Linked DNA regions of Homo sapiens: all the other regions are linked to region 1. Evidence: fine-mapped expression QTL. A gene starts in region 1. Each other region holds a variant in brackets. All regions are shown on one strand. Distances are from middle to middle.

Region 1 (8,177 bases):
CTTCCTGCCTGGGCTTCCTCTGCCCCAGAGGCCCAGGCTGGGGGAGGAAACAGAGCCCTGGGCTGCTGCAGCTGTGTCCCCAGCCTCTGCCTGACCTCCTGCCTCTTGCCCCTCCCGCAGCCAGTGAGGACTCTGGCTAGCACTGTGCGGCAGGACTGACGGTGGGATGGGATGGAGAGAGCACCCTAGAGGAGCTGAATCTGCCCACTGGGGTACTAGCAGGAAGCCATCCTTGGCAGCCTTTGCTAGCCCAGAAAGCTGCAAAGGAGAGGGTTTGAGGTGGAAAGGAAAAAGTGGCTAACAATAAGGCTAAAATCCGGCATTCCTCTAGGATCCTCTGTCCGTACCTCTACTTCTCTGGCCGTGCCCCAGTCCACCCTCCTTCTACTTTATCACGCATCAGAATCACCTGAAGTGCTCACTGAGAAAAGCATATTCACTGGTTTCACCCTCACTCCAGACTCTGATTCAGTCCTGGAATCAGCAAGAAACATGCATTTTTTAAAAGTTCCCCAGGGAGTTCTGATCAGTTTGTGTGGGCACAACGCTAAGTCTGGTTCCTCTGCTTTCATTTTGCTGTACAGGGCCCTGCTGGGTGAGTGGGAGTGGGATGCAGAGGGAGGGGACACTCACTCCCACCCAGGATACTCCCCATCTACTACAGAAGGGACAGCCAAGGGTAAACACCAAAGCTGGGACGTGGTGACACTGTGGAGCGAGGCTGTCTGCATCTGCAGAACCCATCTATGGTCTAATCCTGGGAATGTGATGGAGTAAAATTGGGACTGTCCAATTTTTAACTGGACCCAGTGTGAGATCAAGTACAGGAGGATGCTGAGTCCCGACCAGTCCAAACTCAGAGCTGACTCTGTACGATTTACCCTGAAATCTGACTGTAGCACAGACAGACTCCTGGGGCCTGGCAGGATCCTTTCACTTCTAAGCAAAACTTTGTGAAAGATCTCCTGCTGACAGAAGCATCACTATTGTTGGCCAGAAATTACAGACGTTAAACTAATTTCAAACGTTAGCTAAACACTATGAAATACTTAATAATAACAGTTAACCTTCTCTGAGTACTAATTATGTGCTAAGTACTGAACTTGAATGGTTTATCTGATTTAATCATCACAACAGTCCAACGGGGGAAAGTGAGGCTCAGAGATGTTCAGTTTCTTGTCCATAGTCACTGAGCGTGTCTTAATAAACTTAAATTGCTGATAATAAATCATTCCTTGGTCATTGTTATTCCTCCAGTTGTTTGGGGTTAGATGAGTCCCTCAAAGGAAGAAAAAGACATGGGTCTCGGTGGACGTGTACAAATTGCCCACTACTGTTGTTATTAACGGGTGCCCTACTCAGATTTGTTTAAATGAAGACAGCGTTTTTGTTTGTTTTTAATTTTTTTTGAGACAGGGTCTTGCTCAGTCGCCCAGGCTGGAGTGCAGTGGTGCAATCATAGCTCACTGTAGCCTTGAACTCCTGGGCTCAAGTGATCCTCCCACCTCAGCCTCCCAAGTCCCAAGGGACTACAGGGGTGCAGCACCATGCCCAGTTTTATTTTTAGTAGAGATAGGGTCTCACTATGTTGACCCAGGCAACAAAGGTGGTGTTGCTGCCCAGAAATCATCTGTTTGCCATAGGCTTAGTCAAAGTCTGAGCCTCAGGTGGGGAGAGCCAGAGTAGTGGTATGCCCGAAAGGTGCTTATCAATGTTTTTCTCCCTAGCACACCTGAAGGATTGATAAAACCTACTCCCATCAACGGCAGTGGCTCAGCACAGCAGTGATCTTCACAGGGCTGGAGAAGCGCCATATCAAGCACAACCTTCTGGACTCACTCTGCACTTCAGTAGGCCTTACCCCAACAGCAGAGGAGCAGACCCAGCTGTTCATATTGGGTTGCCCTTACGATTCATCCATGTGATTTATTAGCCCTTCACAGCGGGGTGATGCAGTGGAACATCCAGGTGATGCCTGGATTTTCAGGTCTCAGGCAGACCATGGAGGCAGCACAGTGTAGCACAGAGGTTAGGGTGTGGGCTCTGGAGCATGGAGACCTGGGTTCAAATCCTGCCTTTGCCACTTAGAGGTATGAAATTTGAGACGTTACTTAAACTTTCTGAGGCTTAGGCTTCCCATCATATGTAAAGTGGGAATAATAATAGTGTTATCTCATAGGTAAAATGTAGTACAATTATTTAGCAGAGTATAAGTAGTACACAGTAAGCACTGAAATGTTATCAAGACCCCAACCATGCCATTCACCCCACCATCCAAGGAGTTTTGGACAAGTCCCATATTCATGTCTGTTTCCTTTTCTGTAGGAAGGGGATAGTAACCCCTCTTCCACTAGGTTGCGGCCAGGATTACATGAGAAAAAATATATATATCTAAGTGTCTACATAGTTAGTACTCAATCAATGGTAGCTATTTCTAACAAACCAATGAAATGGGGGGACAGGTGAGAGGACAGGTATTAGGACAGACCCTGACTCAGCCAGAAGCTGGCCATACATAGAGAGAGTGAGAGCAACTGTCCATTATGCCCCTGTCCTTGGAGAAGGAAAGAGGAGCTGGGGCAGCCAGCCCAGCCATGGGTTTCACAGCACTGGCCTCCATGGAAAAATCTGGGGTCCCAGCCTGGGGGGAGACTGGGATCCCCTTTGGCCTGGATCCTGAAGGAAGGTCGTGGCAAGGAGGTGACTGACCATGCGCGCCTAGGGTGAGACTCCTAGGTTGGAGTGATAGTGTCAGATTCCTCAAGCAACAGCTGGAAGGACTGATCTGGGAAAGGTGAGCTCTGCTGGGAGGCTCAACAGCTGTGGAAGTAGGCATTCACTCCAGGTCCACCCAGCGGCCTGGAGGACGTGTGATCCCTTCTATGTGAGTAGAGCAAGACAGGAATCCCACTGCCCATTTTATGAAGAGGGTAGGAGAACAGAGAAGTGAAGTCACTGACCCCAGGTCACCCGACTAGAACCAAGTTTCTGATTTCCAGTCCAGTCTCGTCCATTCCCCTCCAAGTCTCAGGTAGGGTCATGGGAGCTGTGCGTGGTCAGCCAGGAGCAGCTTGCCTTTCTAATGAGCTGGGACTGAGCCTCCCGCGACCACTCTGCGGTGACTCTGGGGTCCGCCCGAAGGAAGGGCCCACTGAAGCGGGGGTCAGGCCGCCCGCCACCCGGTCCCGTCCGCGGACCTCGACTCACCTCTGGGCCCGCTCTGCGGGTGGCGGGGCGCTAGCCTTCGGCGGACCGGGGCCACCTCCCCTCCACCGCGCGGCCGCAGTTGCACCGCCAGCGCTGGACGGCGGGCTGGGGTCCGGGCGCGGCCCCGGACCGGGCTGGAGCCGGGGAGGGGCTCGCTCGGCGCAGCTGGCGCGGCAGCCTCCCGGGACTGGGATGGGGGCTGGAGCAAAAATGTTTCTTATTCCAGCGTCTTCCTGCCTGGCCCAGCTCCACCACTCCCTCCTAATAAACCGTTTCCTTATTGCCCAGCTCGCCGACTGGCCGCCGCTCGCCCCTCGCTGGGGCTGCAGGACCGGGACCCACCCCCGCGCCGCTCCCAGCCCCTCAGGGCGGCCTCCCCTCCCAGCCGCCCGCAGCTCCCGGGTCGCTGGCCCGCACCCGGGCCGGGCCTCCCACATCCGCCTCCCCGAGGGGGCGGGCCTTGGACTCAGGCCGTGGGGGTCCTGTGGGGGTCCCATAGGGGTCCCGTGGGGTCCGGACCCACAGCCGTGGGAGACAGAGCCGAGACTGTAGGCAACGTCTGGCGGCCGGAGTAGTGGGTGGGGGTAGAGGGGGATCGGCTGGCAGCAGCGGAGGGGCCGCCTGGAATCGGGGCGCCGGGAAGGGGCCACCGAGGAAGGGACAGGCGGGGGTGGGACGGGGAGGGACACTACCTATCCTTACCCCACCCTCAGCCCGGGGGTCCTCGGTCTAGGAGGCTTGCAGCAATGAGGGCAGAGTTTGGGGCTAGCAAAATCCAGATGCGTTTTGACTCCGCCCTCGGGAACTCCCGACTTGGCCCAAATCCTTCAGTCCCCTCCCTCGGGCCCCTTCGTCCCCCATTTGTCCCCTCCTGTCTTCAGCAGCCTCTCCCGATCCGCACTCAGCACAGGGGTATACAGGCCCAGAGGACGGCCTTGGGTTAGCCCTGAGGATGGTTTGAGCCCTTCCTGGCCGTTGTGCAGCTGGGTGACAAAGACACCCCCGCCCCGCCAGGGACAGTCAGGATGGAGGGACACGCTGGGAGCAGCCTTGGACCTTCCCCTTCCAGGCAGGGCCCCCACCCCAGCAAATGGAGCTTTAGATAGAGGTGGGGAATGGAGCCTCCCTGGAACTCTGCTGACACAAGGCAGCTGGGGAGGGAAGCAGAATGGCTTCATACCGGCAGGGGAGGGGGACACAGACTCTTCCTGATGCTCCTGCACAGGCTGGGAGCACTGACCTCACTGCCCTGCTTTGCTCCAACCATCTAAGTACCTGCAGGACTCTGGTCTTAGTCCTAGCCTCCTGGTTATCCACAGAGACTCTGAAGTCAAACTACCTACTAGGAATGCAGGCTGGTTGTGTTACCGTAGGCTAGTGACACCTCTCCATGCTTCAGTCCCCCATCTGCTAAATAGGCATAGTAAACCGTGCCAGCCTCATAGGGTGGTTGTGAGAATAGACGGAAATGATGCTTATCTCAGCTCATAGCAAAGATGCTGGCTGGCTGAGCCTGACTCAGAGGAGGCCCTCAATGAAGGCGTTCGTTAATTAAATGAATAAATGAAAAGGCTGGGGAGGGGGTGGCCTCAGAGACACTTGGAAAGACGTGGGTATTAGAAGCAGGAGTAGACCTCTAAGGTGTCTTACTCTAATATGGGGATTCTACAAGATGAGCCAGGGACCCCTCCTCCTGCCCCGCCCCACCTTTTGACAGGAATAGAGGCTGGGGGAGATAATGGCTAAAAGCTCAGACAGGCATCAATTATTGACTGACCTCACTTCCTCTGCTGAAACCCTCCCCATCCCCCACCCCACAGCTGCTTCACAAGTTGTGAGCGTTGTGAATTCCCAGAACCCTGACACACCCAAATTTCAGTGTCAGGACAGAACTGTGTCCTGCAGCCAATAGGAAGTACTATGGGATTACGATATCTGCTCTTTCAGATTATAGCGGCCACTTGGGCCCTCTACGAGCTGGAGAACTGGGAGCCTGGCCGCGGGTCTGTCTTTCACACTCTCTCTCCCTGCTCCGCTATGGCTTCTGGTCAACCTTTTCCTCCCCCAACCCCTGGATCTCTGTCCTGAGAAGCGAGAGTCGGGGCTTCCCAAAGGAAGCCTTTAGTCTGAGAGGCACACTGAGCACAGAAACTTCGAGATGGACAAAAGCTGAGAGTCACTTCTAACAGTCAGTGGGGGATGGAAGACTATCTGGACCAGCGTTCGTGAAACAGATAAAAATAGAGTACATTTTGGGAGCTGGAAGAGAGGACCCAGGGGGGGCTGGAGTCTGTTCATCAGTGCTGGAATCTTCCCCATCTCCCCAGAGCACTGAGCCCTCTGGCCCCTGACTGGTGCTCTTTGGGGCTCTTGTGAACCCCATGCCTTCCAAAGCACACAGAGAACCTGGGGGAGGTGTCAGAGTTGGAGATCCAGAGTTGGAGAAAGCCCTGGAGAGTCATCCCAATGAGAAAAGGGAAAAGGAATTACAGACTGTGTCCAAGTCTACAAGAATTAATTACTCAGAGGGACCAGCTGTTCCCCATATTCAGTGAGGACAGAACAAGAGGAAACAGGCCCAAAGGACAAAGATTTAGATTTAGATACTCAGAAGGATTTCCCAACACTGCAGGAAGCAGAGGCCTGGAGATTCTGTGTGGGGTGAAACCTCAAGCAGATTCTCATCTGTGGAAGGTGGGTGACATGGAGTCTGTCAGGAAGGCAGGGCAATGGACACCTTCACCTTTCAGGACCAGCTATGAGTATTAAGTTCAAGCATCATTCTTTTTTTTTTGAGATGGAGTCTCACAGTGTCGCCCAGGCTGGAGTGCAGTTGCGTGATCTCAGGTCTGCCTCCCAGGTTCAAGTGATTCTCCTGTCTCAGTCTCCCAAGTAGCTGGGATTACAGATGCGTGCCTCCACGCCTGGCTAATGTTTGTATTTTTAGTAGAGACGGGGTTTCACCATGTTGTACAGGCTGGTCTCGAACTCCTGACCTCAGCTGATCCACCCACTCAGCCTCCCAAAGTGCTGAGATTACAGGCATAAGCCACCCCACCCAGACTCAAACATCACTCTTGATACTAGTGCGGGGCTGGCTTCATGGGAGTGTGACCTGTGCAGATGCACAGGGCCCCATGCTTGGTTTAATGCGCTGTCATTGCCATCTTAAAATTCTTAATGATATATTTTTTTTCCATTTATTTAGGTCTCTTTTATTTATCAGTGTTCTTGTAGTTTTCAGCATTTAACTCCTTTATGTGTTTTGTTACACTTATACTTTTTAAAAGCAATTATAAACAGGATATGCTATTTTTAATTTTTGTGTCCATTTGTTCATTAAATTATATAGAAATATAATCGATTTTTACATATTGATCTTGTATACTGTGACCTTGCTGAACTCACTTATTCAAGGGGGTGAGGTATTTGGGTTTTCTACCCCTCATGGATTCTTTGGGATTTTCTACATCGACAGTCATCTGCATCTGCAAATAGAGACAGTATTATTTCTTACCTTCCAATATGCATATCTTTTATTTCCTTTTCTTACCTGACTGCACTAGCTAAAACTTCTAGCATTATGTTGAATAAGAGTGGTCAAAACAGAACAGCCATCCTTGCCTTGTTTCTCTTAGGAGAACACACTCAATCTATTAATCATAATGTTAGCCGTAAGTTTCTTGTAGTAGCCACTCTATATCAGATTGAGAAAGTTCCCCCATTCCTCTTTTGTGTGTGTGTGTGTATTCTTATCATGGATGGCTATTGAATTTTGTCAAATGCCTTTTCTGCATCCACTGATACGAATTGTGTAATTTCTCTTTGTTAGTCTGTTAATACGGTAGATTATGTTGACTGATTTTCTCTTCTTTCTTTTTCTTTTTTTTTTTTTTTGAAACAGAGTTTTGCTCTTGTTGCCCAGGCTGGAGTACAATGGCGTGATCTCGGCTCACTGCAATATCTGCCTCCTGGGTTCAAGCGATTCTCCTGCCTCAGCCTCCCTAGTAGCTAGGATTACAGGTGCCTGTCACCACACCTGGCTAATTTTGTATTTTTAGTAGAGAAGGGGTTTCTCCATGTTGGTCAGTCTGGTCTTGAACTCCCGACCTCAGGTGATCCACCCGCCTCGGCCTCCCAAAGTGCTGGGATTAGAGGCGTGAGCCACCGTGCCCAGCCTATGTTGACTGATTTTCTAATAGTGAACCAGGCCTTACATCCCTGGAATAAACCCACTTGGTTATAATGTGTACTTCTTCATTATATATAGCTCAATTTTATTTGCTAATATAGTAATTTGCTGCATAATGAAGTTTCAGTCAAAAATATTCCACACATACAATGATGGTCGCATAAGATTATAAATGGAGCCAAAAAATTCCTGTTGCCTACTGACGTCGTAGTAACGCATCGCATTACTCATGTGTTTGTGCTGATGCTGGTATAAACAAACCCACTGCGCTGCTAGCCATAGAAACGTATACAGCATGTACAGCTATGTTCAATAAACAATACTTGATGATAAATGACAATGCTACTGGTTTATGTATTTAATATCCTATACTTTTTATTATTATATTTTAGAGTGTGCATCTTCTATTTTTTAAAAAAGTTAACTTTAAAGCAGCCTCAAGCAAGTCCTTCAGGAAGTATTCCAGAAGGCATTGTTATTACAGGAGACAGCAGTTCCACACATTACTGCCCCTGAAGACCTACCAGTGGGACAGGATGTGGAGGTGGAAGACAGTGATAATGATGATCCTGACCCTGTGTAAGCCTAGGCTAATGTGTGTGTTTAATAAAAAAAAAAAATTAAGTACAAAAATGAAATTAAAAGTTTTAAACATAGAAAAAAACTTATAGAAGCCGGGCGCGGTGGCTCATGCCTGTAATCCCAGCACTTTGGGAGGCTGAGGTGGGCAGATCACCTAAGGTCAGGAGCCTGAGACCAGCCAGGCCAACAGGGTGAA
Region 2 (8,177 bases), 26 kb after region 1:
TACTAAAACCAGGAGCAAGGGAACGGAAGAGAACCAGGAAGCTAAACTTTAAAATGGATAATCAAAGAATAAGAGAGCTGAACATACTGACATACTGATTCTTTGAAGAGAAACTTGGGGTTCACTATAATTAACACTGTCTTGATGAAAGATGTAGAGTGCACCACTTTTTTTCTTTCTTTCTTCCCTCTTTCTTCCCTCTTTCTTCCTGCTTATAGAATTCCATAGTGTGCATCCACCTCATTTAGCCTATCCCTTCTTCCTGCAATAGATGCTTAGGTTGCCTCCAACTTCCTGTCACTATAAATAATGCCAAAGTGAACACCCTCATACGTATCTAGTTGTGGACCCATCGGGGTCTCTGAGATCACTAGATCACAGGGCACATACACACTTACTGAGTGGATACTCAGGTTGCACTCTGTTTCACCATGTGTGCCTACCAGCAGTGCATAAGAGTCTCCCTACGTCTTAGACAACACATGTCATTATTCAGCCTTCTAATGTTTGTCAATCTGATAGAACTATAAAGCGATATTGCTATTTTACATTGAATTTTTCTGATTATCAACAAGGTGAGCATCTCTCCACATGCCCTGCTGGCCAATCTTGTTTTCCCTCCTGTGAATTGACTGTTCATGGCCTTTGCTCAGTATTCTATTGAATTTTCCTATCCTTTTCTTATTGATTTTTCAGGAATTCTTTTAATATTCTAGATAATAAAGCCATTGTCAGATGGGTTATAGATGAGGCAACTGTACTATATAAACCCTTCTGTTAGCTTTATCTATGGTGACCTTCATTGAAATAGCTCCTGAATTTTGATATGGTTAAATTCACCAGAATTTCTCCTTATACTTTGTGTTCAGGGTCTTGTTTACTAAGAATTTTCTACTCCAAGATCACAAAGATCTTCATTTCTTTTATTAATCTTGCAGTTTTATTTTTAATATTTAGTCTTTAATTCATCTGGAATTCACTTTTATAATATTGAAGAAATAATCTGTTATAGACTAAATTGTGTCTCCCTCAACCAACCCCAATTCATATATTGAAGCCCTGACACCAAAAATGACTGTGTTTGGAGACAGGGCCTTTAAGGAGGTAATTAAGGTTAAATGAAGTTATTAGGGCAGGATAGGGCCCTAATCCAATAGAACTGTTGTCCTTATAAGAAGAGGAAGAGACACCAGAACTCTCTCTCTCTGTGCCTGCACAAGAAAAGGACACGTGAGGACACAGTCAGAAGGTACCATCTACAAGCCAAGGAGAGAGGCCTCTCTGGAGACCAATCCTGCTGACACCTTGATTTTGGATTTCTAGCTTCCAGAACTGTGAGAAAATACATTTCTGTTGTGTAACCCATCCAGCCTGTGTATTTTGTTAAAGCAACCTGAACAGACTAATAAAGGATCCAACCTTATTTTTTTCTCCATTTAGCAAGATAACTCCATCTATTAAACAATTCTCTCTCCCTTGATTTGTGGTGTCGTTTTTATCACATGTAAACGTTGAGTTCTCTTTTATGTTTTATGCTATGTTTCAGTTATCTTATAGCATCTTATGAGGGCATTCCTGTGCCAATGCTACACTGATTTTATTACTCTAGCCTTGTAGTCTCTCTGACTACCTGATAGAGTAAGTTCTCCATATCTGATTTTCTTTTTTGAAGTTGATTTTTATTCTCTCATGTAAAATTGCATATAAGATTGTTGGGTTCTTTTAAAATTTTTGCTACAGTTTTGATAGGCATTTATTTGAATTTATAGAGTAATTTGGGGAAAATTGACTGCCTCATAATGTTAGATCTTCTCTCCTCCCTGAACATGGGATACGCTATGATCTGAGTGTTTGTTTCCCCCAGAATTCATATGTTGAAATCCTAAGCCCCCAAGGTGATGGTATTAGAAGGTGAGACTTTTTAGGGGGTAGTTAGTGCCTTTATAAAAAAAGACCCCAGAGAGCTGCCTCACCGCTTCCACCATATGAGGACTGATATGGTTAGACTGTGTCCCCCAACTAAATCTCATCTTGAATTATAGTTCCCGTAATTCCCACCTGTCATGGGAGGGATCCAGTGGGAGGTAATTGAATCATAGGGGCGATTACTCCCATGCTATTTTGTGATAGTGAGTTCTCACAAGATCTGATGGGGTTTTTGTTGTTGTTGTTGTTTGAGACGGAGTTTTGCTCCTGTCGCCCAGGCTGGAGTGCAATGGCGCGATCTCAGCTCACTGCAAACTCCGCCTCCTGGGTTCAAGCGATTCTCCTGCCTTCCAAGTAGCTGGGATTACAAGCGTGCGCCACCACGCCTGGCTAATTTTTTTTGTATTATTAGTATAGACAGGATTTCACCACATTGGCCAGGCTGGTCCTGAACTCCTGACCTCAGGTGATCTGCCTGCCTTGGCCTCCCAAAGTGCCAGGATTACAGGCATGAGCTACCACGCCCAGCGATCTGATGGTTTTATAAGGGGCTTTTCCCCTTTTGAATGGCACTTCTCCTTCCTGCTGCCCTGTGAAAAAGGTTATGATTGCTTCCCCTTCTGCCATGATTGTAAGTTTCCTGAGGCCTCCCCAACCCTGCGGAACTGTGAGTCAATCCCACCAAAGTGCTGGGAATACAGGCGTGAGCCACTGCGCCTGGCCTCAATCTTGATAACACTTTACAGTTTAACATGATTTCCCTGACATAGCCCCGGCCTCTCCTCATCCAAGGCAGCTATAATCCTAGTCTCTTGTCCATTATTCTTTTGCTCTCCTTTATATATTGTTTTACTACCTCTTCATGTATTCTTCAGAGTATTTATATTATGTATATATACATATACAATTTTAGCTATTTTATTTAGAAGCATATAATGCTTTATGTAGTCATTTGCTGTCCACTTTTATCACTTAATATCATATTGCTAAGATTCATTCACATTGTTGTGTTACTATGGTCTACTCATTTTGATTGCTGTATAATACTCTATTGCGTTGATGTACCACAGTTATTATGCACTGTCTTTTTTTTTTTTTTTTTTTTGAGACGGAGTTCTGCTCTTGTTGTCCAGGCTGGAGTGCAATGGCGCGATCTCGGCTCACCACAACCTCTGCCTCCCAGGTTCAAGCAATTCTCCTGCCTCAGCCTCCCGAGTAGCTGGGAATACAGGCATGCGCCACCATGCCCAGCTAATTTTGTATTTTAATAGAGACGGTGTTTCACCATGTTGGTCAGGCTGGTCTCGAACTCCCGATCTCAGGTGATCCACCCATCTTGGCCTCCCAAAGTGCTGGGATTACAGGCATGAGCCACCACACCCAGCCTATGCACTGTCTTATTAACGGATATTTGGGATGTGTCCAAGTTTCTGCTATTATAAATTCTGCCACTATGAACACACAGGCATGGTTGTTTATGGAAAAATATTCCTTGATGGCCAGGTGTGGTGGTTCACACCTGTAATTCCAGCACTTTGGGAGGCTGAGGCAGGCGGATCACCTGAGGTCAGAAGTTCAAGATAAGCCTGGCCAAGATGATGAAACCCCGTCTCTACTAAAAATACCAAATTAGCTGGGCGTGGTGGCACATGCCTGTAATCCCAGCTACTCAGGAGGCTGAGGCAGGAGTATCGCTTGAACTCCAGAGGCGGAGGTTGCAGTGAGCCGAGATGGAGCCACTGCACTCCAGCCTGGGTGACAGGAGCAAAACTCCGTCTCGAAAAAAAAAAGTATTCCTTGAGTCCAGGCACAGTGGCTCACACCTGTCATCTCAGAACTTTGGGAGGCTAAAGCTGGCAGATTGCTTGAGCCCAGTAGTTTGAGACCAGACTGGGCAACATGGCCAAGCCCTGTCTCTACTAAAAATGAAAAAATTAGCTGGGCTCAGTGGCACATACCTGTAGTGCCAGCTACTTGGGAGGCTGAGGTGGGAGGATCACCCAAGCCTGGGAGGTTGAGGCTATAGTAAGCCAAGATTGCATGACTGCACTACAGCCTGGGCGCTGGATTGAGACTTTGTCTTAAAAAAAAAAAAAAAAAGAAAGAAAGAAAGAAAAAAAGTATTCTTGAGTGTATACCTACAAGTGGAATTGCTCTTATTTTCTAATTTTTTGAGATATGTGTGTAGCTAATTAATTTTCATCCTTTCTTCAAGTCTTTGAATATAAGCCTTATAGACCTTAAATTTCCCATTGAATACTACTTTAGTTGTTCCATTTTTATTTCCTCTTTGATCAATGAATTATTTAGAAATGTCTTTAATAACTTTCAAACATATGGAAATTATTTTTGTTACTTATTTCTAGCACTGTGGTCAAATCTTTAAAATCAATCGAGACTTGCTTTATAATCTAGTATATGATCAGATTTTGCCAAATACGTCATGTGTGCTTTAAAAGACTGTGTATTTTTCAGTTGTTCGGTGCCATGATGTGTGGAAAGTATTTCACTGGGTTCTGGCTTTCATTATCTTGTTGAGAGTTCAGTGTGTCTCCTTTAAAGATTGTCTTTTCTTTTTTTTTAAATTTAATTATTTTTTTTTGAGACAGAGTTTCACTCTTGTTTCCCAGGCTGGAGTATAATGGCACAATCTCGGCTCACTGCAACCTCCACCTCCCGGATTCAAGCGATTCTCCTGCCTCAGCCTCCC[G/A]AGTAGCTGGGATTACAGGCGCCCACCACCACGCCTGGCTAATTTTTTGGATTTTTAGTAGAGACGGAGTTTCACCATGTTGGCCAGGCTGGTCTCGAACTCCTGGCCTCAGGTGATCTGCCCGCCTCGGCCTCCCAAAGTGCTGGGATTACAGGCGTGAGCCACTGCGCCCGGCCTTCTTTTCTTAAGTCTTCAAGGTCTTCTTCTTGTCTTTGGTGTTCTTAAGTTTTACTTCAATGCTTAGGTATGGATTTCTTATGATTTACCTTTTTTTTTTTTTTTTTTTTTTGAGACAGGGTCTCACTCTATCAGGTGGTATCTCACTCTATCAGGTGATCCTTTCACCTCAGCCTCCCAAGTAGCTGAGACTACAGGCACCTGCCACTATGCCCAGCTAATTTTTTTTTTCTGTTTTATAAAAAGGAGGTCTCACTATGTTGCCCAGGCTGGTCTTGAGCTCCTGGGCTCCAGTGATCCTCTTGCCTTGGCCTCCCAAACTGCTGGGATTACAGGTATGAGCCACCACGCCCAGCCTAGAGATTTTTTTTCCCCCTGTGAGCTATTTATTATTTTCCCTAGAAAATGATGTTAGAAATTTCTTGAGGCTGAGGACTAAGGTATCTTCCTTCAGAGAATATGAAGTTTTTTTGTTTTGTTTTGTTTTGTTTTGTTTTTTCCTGCCAGGCATGTAGAGGTACTAACCAGTCCTGAACCACTTTAAACTAAATACCTAACTTGGATAGTTTTGGGTCATCCAGGGCTGCAAATAAGCGCAAAGATCAGCTGGTGGTTACAACTCAGAGATACAGCCTTGCTATCAGCTCAGCACTGAGGCAGCTTTCATTAAAGTCCTCTGGATGTGACAGCGGGATAGATTTATTTCAGGTTCAATCTTACATGAACGATGAATCCTTTGGAGTCATAGCTTTTTAGAGAATCTCCTATTAGATTCCTCACCTTGGTTCTATCAAAAATAGAGACTGTGAAATTTGAAGTTCAAGTTTGCCTAATTCGACAAATATCCTCACACTAAAGAAGGATTCCTTTGTCTGTTTCTCTGAGTTCCTGCCTTCCCTTAGACTTTAACCTAATACTTTCTTGCTATCTGGCCAGCACATCTACACTTTTAAAATAATTTGCGTATTTCAACCAGCATTTTTACATGACTTATGCTGAAAAATCAGTCCAGAATCCAGCCAGTCATATTATTGGAAATAGAATTTCCTCTATTCCTAATTAATTGCAAAAAAGCCCAATAGGAGACAGATGTGGTGGCTCACGGCTGTAATCCCAACACTCTCGGAGGCTGAGGCAGGCAGATCACTTGAGGCCAGGAGTTAGAGACCAACCTGGGCAACATGGCAAAACCCTGTCTCTATTAAAAATACCAAAAAAAAAAAAAAAAATTAGCCAGGCATGGTAGCCTGTGCCTGTAGTCCCAGCTACTCAGTAGGCTGAAATGTTGGCTTGAGCCTGGAAGATGGAGGTTGCAGTGAGCTGAGATTACACCACTGCACTCCAGCCTGGGCAACAGAGCAAGACCCCATCTCAAAATTAAATAAATAAATAAATAAATAAATAAATAAATAAATAAATAAAATAAAAAGCCCAATAGGAAATGGGCAAATAGCATGGTCAATTAATTCATAAAAGAAATACAAATGGCCAGGCCAGGCGCGGTGGCTCACACCTGTAATCCCAGCACTTTGGGAGGTGGAGGTGGGCAGATCACCTGAGGCTGGGAGTTTGAGACCAGCCTGACCAACATGGAGAAACCCTATCCCCAATAAAAATACAAAATTAGTCAGGTGTGCTGGTGCATGCCTGTAATCCCAGCTACTCGGGAGGCTGAGGCAGGAGAATCACTTGAACCCGGGAGGCGGAGGTGAGGTTGCAGTGAGCTGAGATCGTGCCATTGCACTCCAGCCTGGGCAACAAGAGCGAAACTCTGTCTCGAAAAAAAAAAAAAAAAAAAGAAAAGAAATACAAATGTCCAATAAACATATGAAAAGATGCTTAACCTCACAAATAGGCAGGAAAAGGCAAATTAAAATAACAATGAAATATTGCTTTTGGCCCATCAGTTTGGTAAAAATTAAACATTAATAATATGAAGTGCTTACACTGTGGGGAGAATGTAAATTAGTGAAGTATTTTTGGAAAGCATTTTGACAGTATCTATCAAAATAACAAATGTACATACACATTGACCCAGAAATTCTGCTTTTAGAAATCTTTTTCAAAACAGTGCTTGCATATGTGAGCAAAGATAGACTGAGTAGGCCTGGCATAGTGGTTCATGCCTGTAATGCTAGCACTTTGGGAGGCTAAGGCAGGAGGATTGCTTGAGGCCAGGAGTTCAAGACCAGCCTGGGCAACACACGGAGACCCTGTCTCTGCAAAATAAATAAATACAAATAAATAATAAAATAAAATTTAAAAAGACATACTGAATATACCTTGAAGCATTGTTTGTAACAGTAAAAAAAATTAGAAACAATTTAAATGTTCATCAGTAGAGGAAAGGTTAGAGGCACCTGTAGATTATGCCTCCATTCAATGCCTCCATTTATCTTCAAGAAGAAGATAAATATCTACATGGTTTGCCCTGAAAATCTCTCTGAGCCACCTTGTTCATGGTTGGAAAAAAAGCCAAATGCAATGACACACACACATACAAACACACAGGCACACAGTATACTGTATACATATATATACACACACATATACACACACACTTGAGGCCAGGAGTTCAAGACCAGCCTGGGCAACATAGTGAGACCCCGTCTCTACAATATACATATGCGTGTGTGTGTGTGAGAGAGAGAGAGAGAGTCTGGCTATTTACGTGTTTTTTGTAAATGCATAGAAAGAGCTGGAATGGTTTTTTTTTTTTTTGAGACAGAGTCTTGCTCTGTCTTTCAGGCTGGAGTGCAGTGGTACAATCATGGCTCACTGCAGCCTTGACCTCCCCGGGATCAAGCAATCCTCTCACTTCAGCTTCCTGAGTAGCTGGGACTACGGGCATGCGCCAGCACGCCCAGCTAATTTTTGTATTTTTTGTAGAGACGGGGTCTTGCTGTGTTGCCCAGGCTGGTAACTCCTGGGCTCAAGTGATCCACCCGCCTTGGCCTTCTAAAGTGCTGGGATTACAGGCATGAGCCACCGTGTCCGGCCAGAATGGTCATTCTTAACATTGGCGGCACAATGTAATCACTTAAGGACTTTTTAGAAATAGTGATGCCTGGAACCCACTCTGGAGATTCTGAGACTATTGGTCTGGGGCACAACCTGGGCAACAGGATTTTAAAAATCTCTTCATGTGATTCTAATGTACAGCCCAGATGGGGAACCTCTAGACAAAATGATGCTCTTTAAAACATGGTTAACTTAAAGAGGAGGAATAAGAGAAGGGTGAAGAAAAAGGTTTTTTGTTTGTTTGTTTGTTTGTTTTGAGATGGAGTCTCGCTCTGTTGCCCAGGCTGGAGTGCAGTGGCGCGATCTCCACTCACTGCAAGCTCCGCCTCCCGGGTTCACGCAA
Region 3 (8,177 bases), 59 kb after region 1:
ATGTGGGGTGGGGATAGGATCCAGACTAGACACAGCTTGTAGCACAGTGGGAAGGCAAAGCTGGTATACGTTCATGAAGAGTAAGAGTTTTTGGGGTGGTTTGATCAGGGTTGGGGAGGCACTGGGAACTGGGCCTTGATGGGCAAAGAGCAAGAATGAGAAGGGCTAGAGTTTCCATTTGTGGGGACAGCAGCCTGAGTCCCGGGCAAGTGTGGTTGGGGGGAAGCCCAGCTGGGTGTGGTGCCCTCTGGGCACGCACCCCAATCCCCAAGCCAGGACACATTTCCTTCCTTTCCTGCTCATAATGACTCCTGAGTGGCCAGTCCAGAGGACCACAAAGAGGCCTCCCCGCCCTTTCCTCTTCCTCTCTTCCATTTCTTTCTCCCTTCCTCCCCCCACCCCATCCTTCCCCCAACCCGGGGCCCTTTTCTTTCCTTCCTCCTCACCCTACTTGCTCCTCCCGCCCTCTCTCTCTAGCTTTTACTTCCTCCCTCTAACTCTCCCCCCTCCCTCCAAAATCCTTTGAGCTGATTCTCCCTAGACCCACGGAGTTATTTTTCTTCTTAATGTTTTTAGAAAGCCCTTGTTGCAGGTCTCTGGACCAGGAAGGTCACACACTCCCACACTTCTGCTGCACACCCACATGCATGCGCCCGCAGCAGGTGCCTGCACTCAGCCACACAACCAAGCATAGCACCTGTCTCCCCTGGGGGCAGGATGGGGGTGGGATTCTCCACCTTGGGTGTGATACTAGCAAAAGATCTGGGAAAGAATGGAGGGCCCTCTGCAGAAGCCACACATTACCACCATCATTACCACTATTATTATCCAATCCATTGCCAGGCACTTGACCTGCCTGGGGATGATCACAGCCACCTCAGCAGGGGCTCTCAGGGCACAGATCCCTTGACTGGGGACAGCCAGGAGTGAGGTCACCCCAGAGTCCTCAGAGATCAGTCTCTCGGGCCCTGCCCAAGAGGGCAGGAGGTAGAGATGTGATGAACAGAGTATTTGTCAGCCCAGGAGGCTGGATGATGTATTAACAGGACTTTAATGAGCTCTGGGAGGGGGAGCCACACTTCATCGCCCTGAGCACTGGTGCAGGGTGGGAGGTGGAGGGGTGAAATGATCAACCTCACCCCCACCTGCTAACTAAACCTCTTAATATCACCCACAGCAGTCCGCCCATTGGAAACAACTCAGTACTGCCAAGCTGCTGGTCTTGCCCCTGGAGTCCAGCGAAGGCCTTATCCAGCAGGCTGGTGTCTTCCACTATCTCACTAGCAAGGCCTTCCTTAGCTTTAAGCTTGTCCTTCCTTTACTCCCGGACTCCTAGAGGATGAAGGAGAACCGGATCCCCGCTCCAGGGGAGCGCATGATCAATTCCTTCCTTCACACTGAGCGCCTCAGTCCAACCCCACTCCTGTCATCCCCCCTTCCCTGGAGCATGGTGGAGCAGGATCCCCATTGGCAATGCCAGACTTGGCTTCCTGGCACTAATCCTGCTGGCTGAGGCACCCAGCTCATAAGGATATTAGTCTTTCCCTTAGTTCCTGTCTCTGGCTGTCAGGGAACCTGACAGGTAGGGGTGGAAAAAGTGCAGTGGATTCTAGATCCAGCTTTGCTGTGTGACCCCAAGTGTGTCACTTCTCCTCTCTGGGCCTCCAGTGCTCCAACAATAAGGAAATAGCCAAGGAGTTCCTTCCAGCTGGTATCCTGGGATTGTTCCTCCAGCAAGGGTTCCAGTCTCCTAGCATGGTGGTTGTGGCTCCCTTCATCCTGCCTGATTCTGAAGCCAGGGGCTACTCTAGCACTCTGAGCCTTGACACGTCCCTCCTCCTGTGCCAGGGCAGAGCCCTGGGGGTGGGGAGTGGCAAGGAAGAGATAATTCTGGAGGTGGAAAAGACACTGACCTTGGCAAGTTCCAGAACCTGCGTGGGTGCCGGTTGCTTCCAAATGTGGGCTGGAAAAGAAGTGGGAGCTACTGAGGCCCTCCCCTTCTGTTTCCCTGAGTGGCACCTAAAGGAGTGCCCCAGACCTGTCAGACCCCAGAGCCTGCAGGGGAATCTGCATTAGAAGAAGGGAGGGGGTAGTGTTTGGAGTTCTACAGGCTAGTGGGTGAGGGCCAATCTTGCCCTACTGACACTCAGGCTAGGCAGCCACTCAAAAGGGAAACAAGCTCTCAGGAGAGAGGACCCTTAAGCACTGCCCTTGGGTGGAAACAGGATTGCCTTGGGACATCTGGAGGCTCAACAGCAGGAAGGTTCTCTGGACCCTCCATCATCAGCACAGCCCTCCTCCTACCTTCTCCTGGGGCAAAGCCGGTTCCTGGCCTTTATCCCTGATGAAGCCTTGAGTGTGTGTGTGTCGGGCAGAATTCTGTCTACCCTTCGACTGGGAGCTCCAGGAAGACAGGGCTGTGCCTCTTGGACTCTCTTGGGTATCCCTGGTGCACAGTCCAATGTTTGGCACAAAGTTAACACTCAGTATGTATCTATTGAACGGATGTCTTTGGACACTCTCAGTGGACTAGAGGTCTGGGATTCATCCCTCATCTTTTCTTCCTGCCAGTCATCCTGCTTGGCCCAGTGTGACTGCCGCCTTCTGGGCAAGCCCTCCAGTGGAGCCCTCTGTTTAGATCTCACACCCTACACTCCGCTGCCCCCGTCCAGTGCTCGCCCTCCTCCCCCGCAGCCACCCGCTCCCGGAGTGGCATCAGCGCAGAGCCGCGGCCTTGCCTGGCGGTGCGTCCTGCCCTCTGCAGCCCGGGAGGGCAGGCGCAGCAGAGTCCCGCGCGCAGTGGGTTCTCAGCTCACCTGGGGGCGGAGGAAGTGAGCAAGAGTCCTCCAGACTGGGGCCAGGGGGCCAAGGCAGTCCTGGGAAAGGGGGTCTGGGGCGGCCCGCGGACGGGGCGGGCCCAGGCCGGCTGCCTTCCCCTTTGCCCTTCGACCCAGGAAGCCGCCCACATCCAGCGGACACGCTCGACGGGCTGGGCTGCTCAGTCCCGGCCTCGGCCCCGTCCCCATGCCGTCCCCCACCCCTACCCGCCGGCCCGACCCCCACCCCAACCCCAGCTTCCCGCTCCGACGGCCGGGAGAGGCGGGGCGGACGGGTCTGAGAGTGGCGAAGGACACTCTCCACACCGAGGGTCACTTGCTCTTTTTTCCCCTCTGTGGCTAATTTATTTTAGAGCCAGGGGCGGGAGGGGGCGGGGCCAGCCGGGAGGGTGGCAAGGAGGGGCTGGGCGAGCCCAGGGGAGGTGGGGGCGGGGCGGGGGCGAGGTGGGGGAGGGCGGGGAAGAAGCCGGGGGTGGAGGGGCCAGAGAAGGGGCGGGAGCTGGGGGAAGAGAGGGGCACTAGGAGAGGGAGGAGCAGGGAAAGGGGAGGGGAGGGAGGGCCTGCGAGGGAGGGCCCTGGGGGCGGGCGAGGGGAGGCGGGGGTGGGGGTGGGGGTCTTTCCTGCGGGGGGAGCCGGGGCCGCCCCTTGTCCGGCCACCCCCACTGCCCAGTCCCGCTCCCGCCCGCGGCGGCCGCAGCAGCCGCAGCAGCAGCGGCTCCAGGATGGTGAGCGCCACTGCCCCCCAGCCCAGGCCTGTCGCCCCCGGCCCGCGCCGCCGCCCCGGTCCCCGGGCCGGACGCGCCCCCAGGCCGCGCACACTCACCTAGGACCCGGCCGTGATGCCGAGGTACGGGGCCGCGGGCGGGCCGGGATGGGGCGGGGGGAGGTGACCGTTCGGTCAGGGTGTCCGGAGCTTTGTCCGCCGGCCCGGGGCCGGAGAGGGCCGAGAGGGCGGGGGCTGCTAGTCGCGGGGTTCAGCTCGGCGGGGGTCGGAGGGCAGGGCCGGCGAGAGACCCTAGCGGGTACGTGGGAGCCGAGGGTCACTTCTCGGGGGGAGGGGGCGGGCAGAGCAGGGGATAGCCGCCCGGCCGCCGACGGGCACCCGTCTCGCAGCCCCCTCTGGTGCGGGGGCTGCAGCGAAAGCGAGCAGCCGGCTCGGGGGCGTCTGCTGGCCTGGGGGTGGGGAGCCAAGGTTTGCGGGTTCGGGTCCCAGAAGGATCCAGCGTCCGGAGCCCGAGGGCCGGCCCGCAGGCCCCTCCCACTCCGTCAGGTCTTTGTCCAGCGGCCCCTGTGTGTGTGTGTGGGAGGGGTGGGGGCTGGGTTACTGGCCCGGAGATTCCCCAGCATGGTGACGGGGCAGTGACAGGAGGCCGAGGCTACTTAGGGTCCCCGCGCCCCTAACACCCACCCTCTTCATGTCTTCTCCTCTGGCCCGGGAGAACAGAGCCCGCGTCTCAGAGTCAGGGGGTTGTAGGAGGCTGTACTCACCTTCACCCTGGGGCTACAGGCAACAAGGGGGACCCCCGGAGCGCCCAGCTCTCCAGAGAGGGCCCCTCAAACTTCCCCACCGCAAGAGCCCTCTCCTGTTCTACACAGAGATTCGCATGCTAGCAACCCCCCCGCCGCTGCAGAGGGTCCTTCGCAGATTGCTGAGCACCCTGTAGGTGATCAGCAAATGCTGGTGCCCTTCCCCAGCCCCGCTGGTCCCCCTGCCCCCGCCAGAGGAGGAGGCCTGGGAAGGGGTCTGCGCGGGGCAGAGAGCGCGCGGCCTGGACCCTGCGCCCAGCGGCGGCCCGGAGCGCAGGGGTGGGTGGACGGGTGGGTGGGCTGTTAAAGGGACGGTCACTAAATCAGGATTAGGCCGTAGGGCTGTCAGGCTGCCGGCCCTGTCTCCATGGATACCTAATTTGGAGGAGAATAGAGGACTGAAGAATGTTTGTGTTGTCCGCACGGGCTGTGGCGGCGGAGCGGTCTCCTGCTTTCCGCCCGGCAGCG[A/T]GGAGTGGGGACCCGGTTCCAGCCCAACTCTGGGCTTACGGCGCAGGTGGGCTTCCCGGTTCCTGGGCCGTGGGGCCTCCCCTGTGGAGCCGCCCAGTCTCTGGAGTGGGCTGGGCCCGCAGATGCCACGGTGCGAAACCCTCTGACCCTGCAGAGGGAGTCCCAGACCCTCCCGGAGCCTACCCCGAAATCCCATAGCATCCTCCTAAAGCCTCCCCGAGCCTCTCAGTCCGGAACCGACGCCATTCCCCGCTGTGCCTGAGCCCCCAAGGACGGGCGCGCCGGGCTGCCCGGTGCTGTGGTGCCGCCGCCACCCAGCTGTGGGACGCGGGTACCGGGCGGCCGCGCGAGCTGCGGGCAGGGGGCGGGGCGGGACTTCCTGGGGTGGGCGAGGAAAGGGGCGGGGCTTGCTGGGGTGGCTGGGCTGGACGGGTGACAGGCCTCGTAAATCCCCTTTCCCATGTTTAACACCATTTCATTTCTTTCCACTTGATTCCATTGGCATCCAAGGCAGACGGGAGCGACCCTCGTGTCCTCGCTGTAATATCTTCTGGGCGAAGCCCTTTTGGGCCAAAGGGAATTAGGCTGTGTGGGGCAGAGGAGTTGCTCCTGGGGAGGCCTAGAGGACCCGCATTCCTCGGGGGGATTCCTGTTGCCCCCACCCCCGCCCCAGAAGAAGAAACAGAAGGGGCTGAGAGACACAGAAATGAGTTTGGCTTCGGAGGCCCTGCCCGATTCTCTGGCCGTGGTATGGCTGAGGGCTGGGCTGAGGATCCCGTAACTGTCAATTCCAGTACCAGCCTGGGCGAAGGCTGGGGAGAGCCACCCAGACTGAGTGTGGCGTCGCAGAGCCCTTTCCTGCCTTTCTTCTGCTCACCCATGGCCACAGCTTTTTATGGATCAGGACTCCCCTCCCTGCCCTGCCTGGGCCGCAGCTTTATTGCTGAGATCTAGGGCTCTCTCCACGCAATTTCACGCCTCTCTGCCTTTGCTCCCGCTGTTCCTCCAGCCAAATGCCTTCCTCATTGTCCCTGTCTTTCCACAACCTCCTTATTCTTCAGGGCCCAACTCGGATGCGCACCTCCTCCGCATCACCTCCCCAGCCCCGAGCTTCTGTCACTTGCTCCTCCCTCCGTGGCCTGCACCTGTGCTCCCTTCCGCCTTTGTGGCGGGGTCCACTCAGGGCTTTGACTGAAATGGAGCATGTACTCCCTGGCCCTGCCCCCAGTGGGCTTGCCACAGGGCTTGACACCTTGTGGGTGCTCCATAAATATTGGTTGGCTGAATAAAAGGGGTTTTGTAAGGGCCTTTAGCCAGGCAGTCTGCATAGCATGGAATCTGGCCACCTTCAGGTAAACAGCTCTGTGCTCTTGGGTGGTGGAGACCCCTGGGTGGGGCTCCTCCTCTCCCTTTCCCTTATTTGCCTCCTTCTCCTCCCCATGACCCTACCCCACCCCCCCAAGTCCGGGGAGGACTTTGCCCCTTCCCTTCCCCACAGACCAGCATTCTTTCCCTGCCATTATCATTCTGTTAAACAGAGAGGCCAGTCAGGATCCATATGGATCACATTAACAATTGCTTATTATCTGGGCCAGGACTCCCCCGACTCTCCCCCCAAGCTCCGACTGCTGCCATTGCTGGACCCTTAGGAGCCCTGCCTTCCCCTCCCCCTGCCGTCGGTCAGCCAGGGAGGGCAAGAGACAGGCTGGTCTCCCTCACCTTCCCTGTGCCTTCTAGCAGAACTTTGCCTCTCCTGGACTTGGCGGTTATCGACTCCTTTACCCGATTTAATGAAAACCAGGTTCCTGGAAGGAGCATGGCTCTGCAAAGCTCCAGGGCTGCAGCAGGGAGATGTGGACTCCAGGCCCCAGTGCCCCTGTGCTCTGCAGCCCTGAGACCCCCTTCAGGGGACAGAGACTGTGGGGGGGGGGCGGTGAGCCACAAGAGGTCAAGTATGGGGTGCTGGCATCTGCTACCTTAGCCTTGGGCTGGTCCTGCCCCCTTTTGGGAGCTGGCTGTCTGGTGAGGGAGATCAGGGCAGAGGGACCCTGCCAGGCTCTGTGGTGTTGGGCTCCCAGCCTTTCCCTGCAGTCAAAGAAGCAAGAAATCTGTTAGAGCTTCCCAGAGCAGCCACTGAATTGGCCTTGAAGGATGGGGAGTGTACTTCACGTTTAAACCCATATATAACCCAGGAATACTAGGGCATGGAAGGAGCCTCCAAGATTACCCATTCTGGGTATCCATAACTTTTTTTGATTTACAGAGCCCTTGGAGACACTGATGAAAGCCATCCCCAGAAAAATGCACTTCCGTTAATTGACACCAGACTTTGCATTCTGCTTTAGAGGATTCTTGGATCCCCTGAAGCCCATGGGGACCTTATGTCAAGAAACCCTCACCCCAGTCCATCCCTCTCTGATGTGCTGAGGACAGAGTCATGCCTGCAGCCTGGGTTTCCTGACCTCCCCACTCAGTGCTCACTCCATGGCCATATTACTTGCAGTAGGACCGCCAGAACCAAGCGACCAGGGGTATGAGATTGAGGCACTAGGCCAGCCTTTAAGTGGGAAGAGTTCACACTGGCTGGGTCAGGGTCTGGGCTGGTCATCTCATCTCTGACTATGTGGCTTGGAGAGAGGCTGTCCAGCTTTTTTTTTAGGGTCCACTTGTCTCCAGGAACAAGTGGCAATTGCTCTTCTCCGAGCAGTTTCATAAGCATCTTGATGAATCATAGTTAACGCTTCCACACACTTGTTAAACACTCTGTATCTCATCTGTGAGGTGAGAAAATAGAGTGAAGAATGGTGTCCACCTCCTAAGCAGGATATTGTGAGGATGAAAGGAGTCAGAGCTGGGAGACCTGAGTCCTAGTCTTGAATGACTCTAGGTGCAGGTGCTCAGGGCTGTGGTTACTGTTGAGGCCAGCATTTCCCCAGTTTGCTTAGCCAAGGAAAGGGGACTGCAGTGCGAACCCCCTGAGTGCCTTCTGTCTTTTCCTTTAGTACCGAGGTATGGACAGTGTCAGCCTTTGGAATATTCATCTTCAGGGTTGGAGGCAGAGTGGGGGTTCTTAGTGAGTGGGAGAGCTGGGCAGTGGCCATGGCCTGCCTCTGTAGCCCCAACCCCATTTTTGATGACCAGTTATGACCCCTACCCTAGAGACCAAGCTTTGTGCTTCAGCAACCCCTTGCTGCTAATCAGATGTAACTCCGGACAAGTGACTTCATCTGTTTGGGTTTCAATTTCATCATTTCTAAAATGGGGATAAGAACCTCATATGATGGTGATGTGGCCCTGGTTTCAAATAGTCTGCCCCTTTGATTCTGAAGCCTACCTTGGGGACCC

What was found. PIP is the estimated chance that this variant, and not a neighbour inherited with it, causes the effect.
Region 2: its variant is fine-mapped to the expression of ACVRL1 in whole blood (TOPMed, PIP above 0.99).
Region 3: its variant is fine-mapped to the expression of ACVRL1 in whole blood (INTERVAL, PIP above 0.99).

Annotation. Positions count from the first base shown.
Region 1 is chr12:51,902,726-51,910,902 of GRCh38, reverse strand. ACVRL1 (activin A receptor like type 1) reads right to left here and starts at 3,399. Exons shown (of 10, transcript NM_000020.3): 1 at 3,208-3,399. RefSeq lists an enhancer at 2,730-3,238.
Region 2 is chr12:51,876,541-51,884,717 of GRCh38, reverse strand. No RefSeq gene overlaps it. Among named protein-coding and RNA genes, the nearest start is that of ANKRD33, 7.5 kb to the left of the region's middle. The variant G/A (reference allele first, on the strand shown) is at 4,637.
Region 3 is chr12:51,844,047-51,852,223 of GRCh38, reverse strand. FIGNL2 (fidgetin like 2) reads left to right here and starts at 3,506. Exons shown (of 2, transcript NM_001384995.1): 1 at 3,506-3,684. FIGNL2-DT (FIGNL2 divergent transcript) reads right to left here and starts at 4,001. Exons shown (of 3, transcript NR_135803.1): 1 at 3,661-4,001; 2 at 1,914-1,963. RefSeq lists enhancers at 3,282-4,273, 4,472-5,180, 5,891-6,599, 6,600-7,310. The variant A/T (reference allele first, on the strand shown) is at 4,833.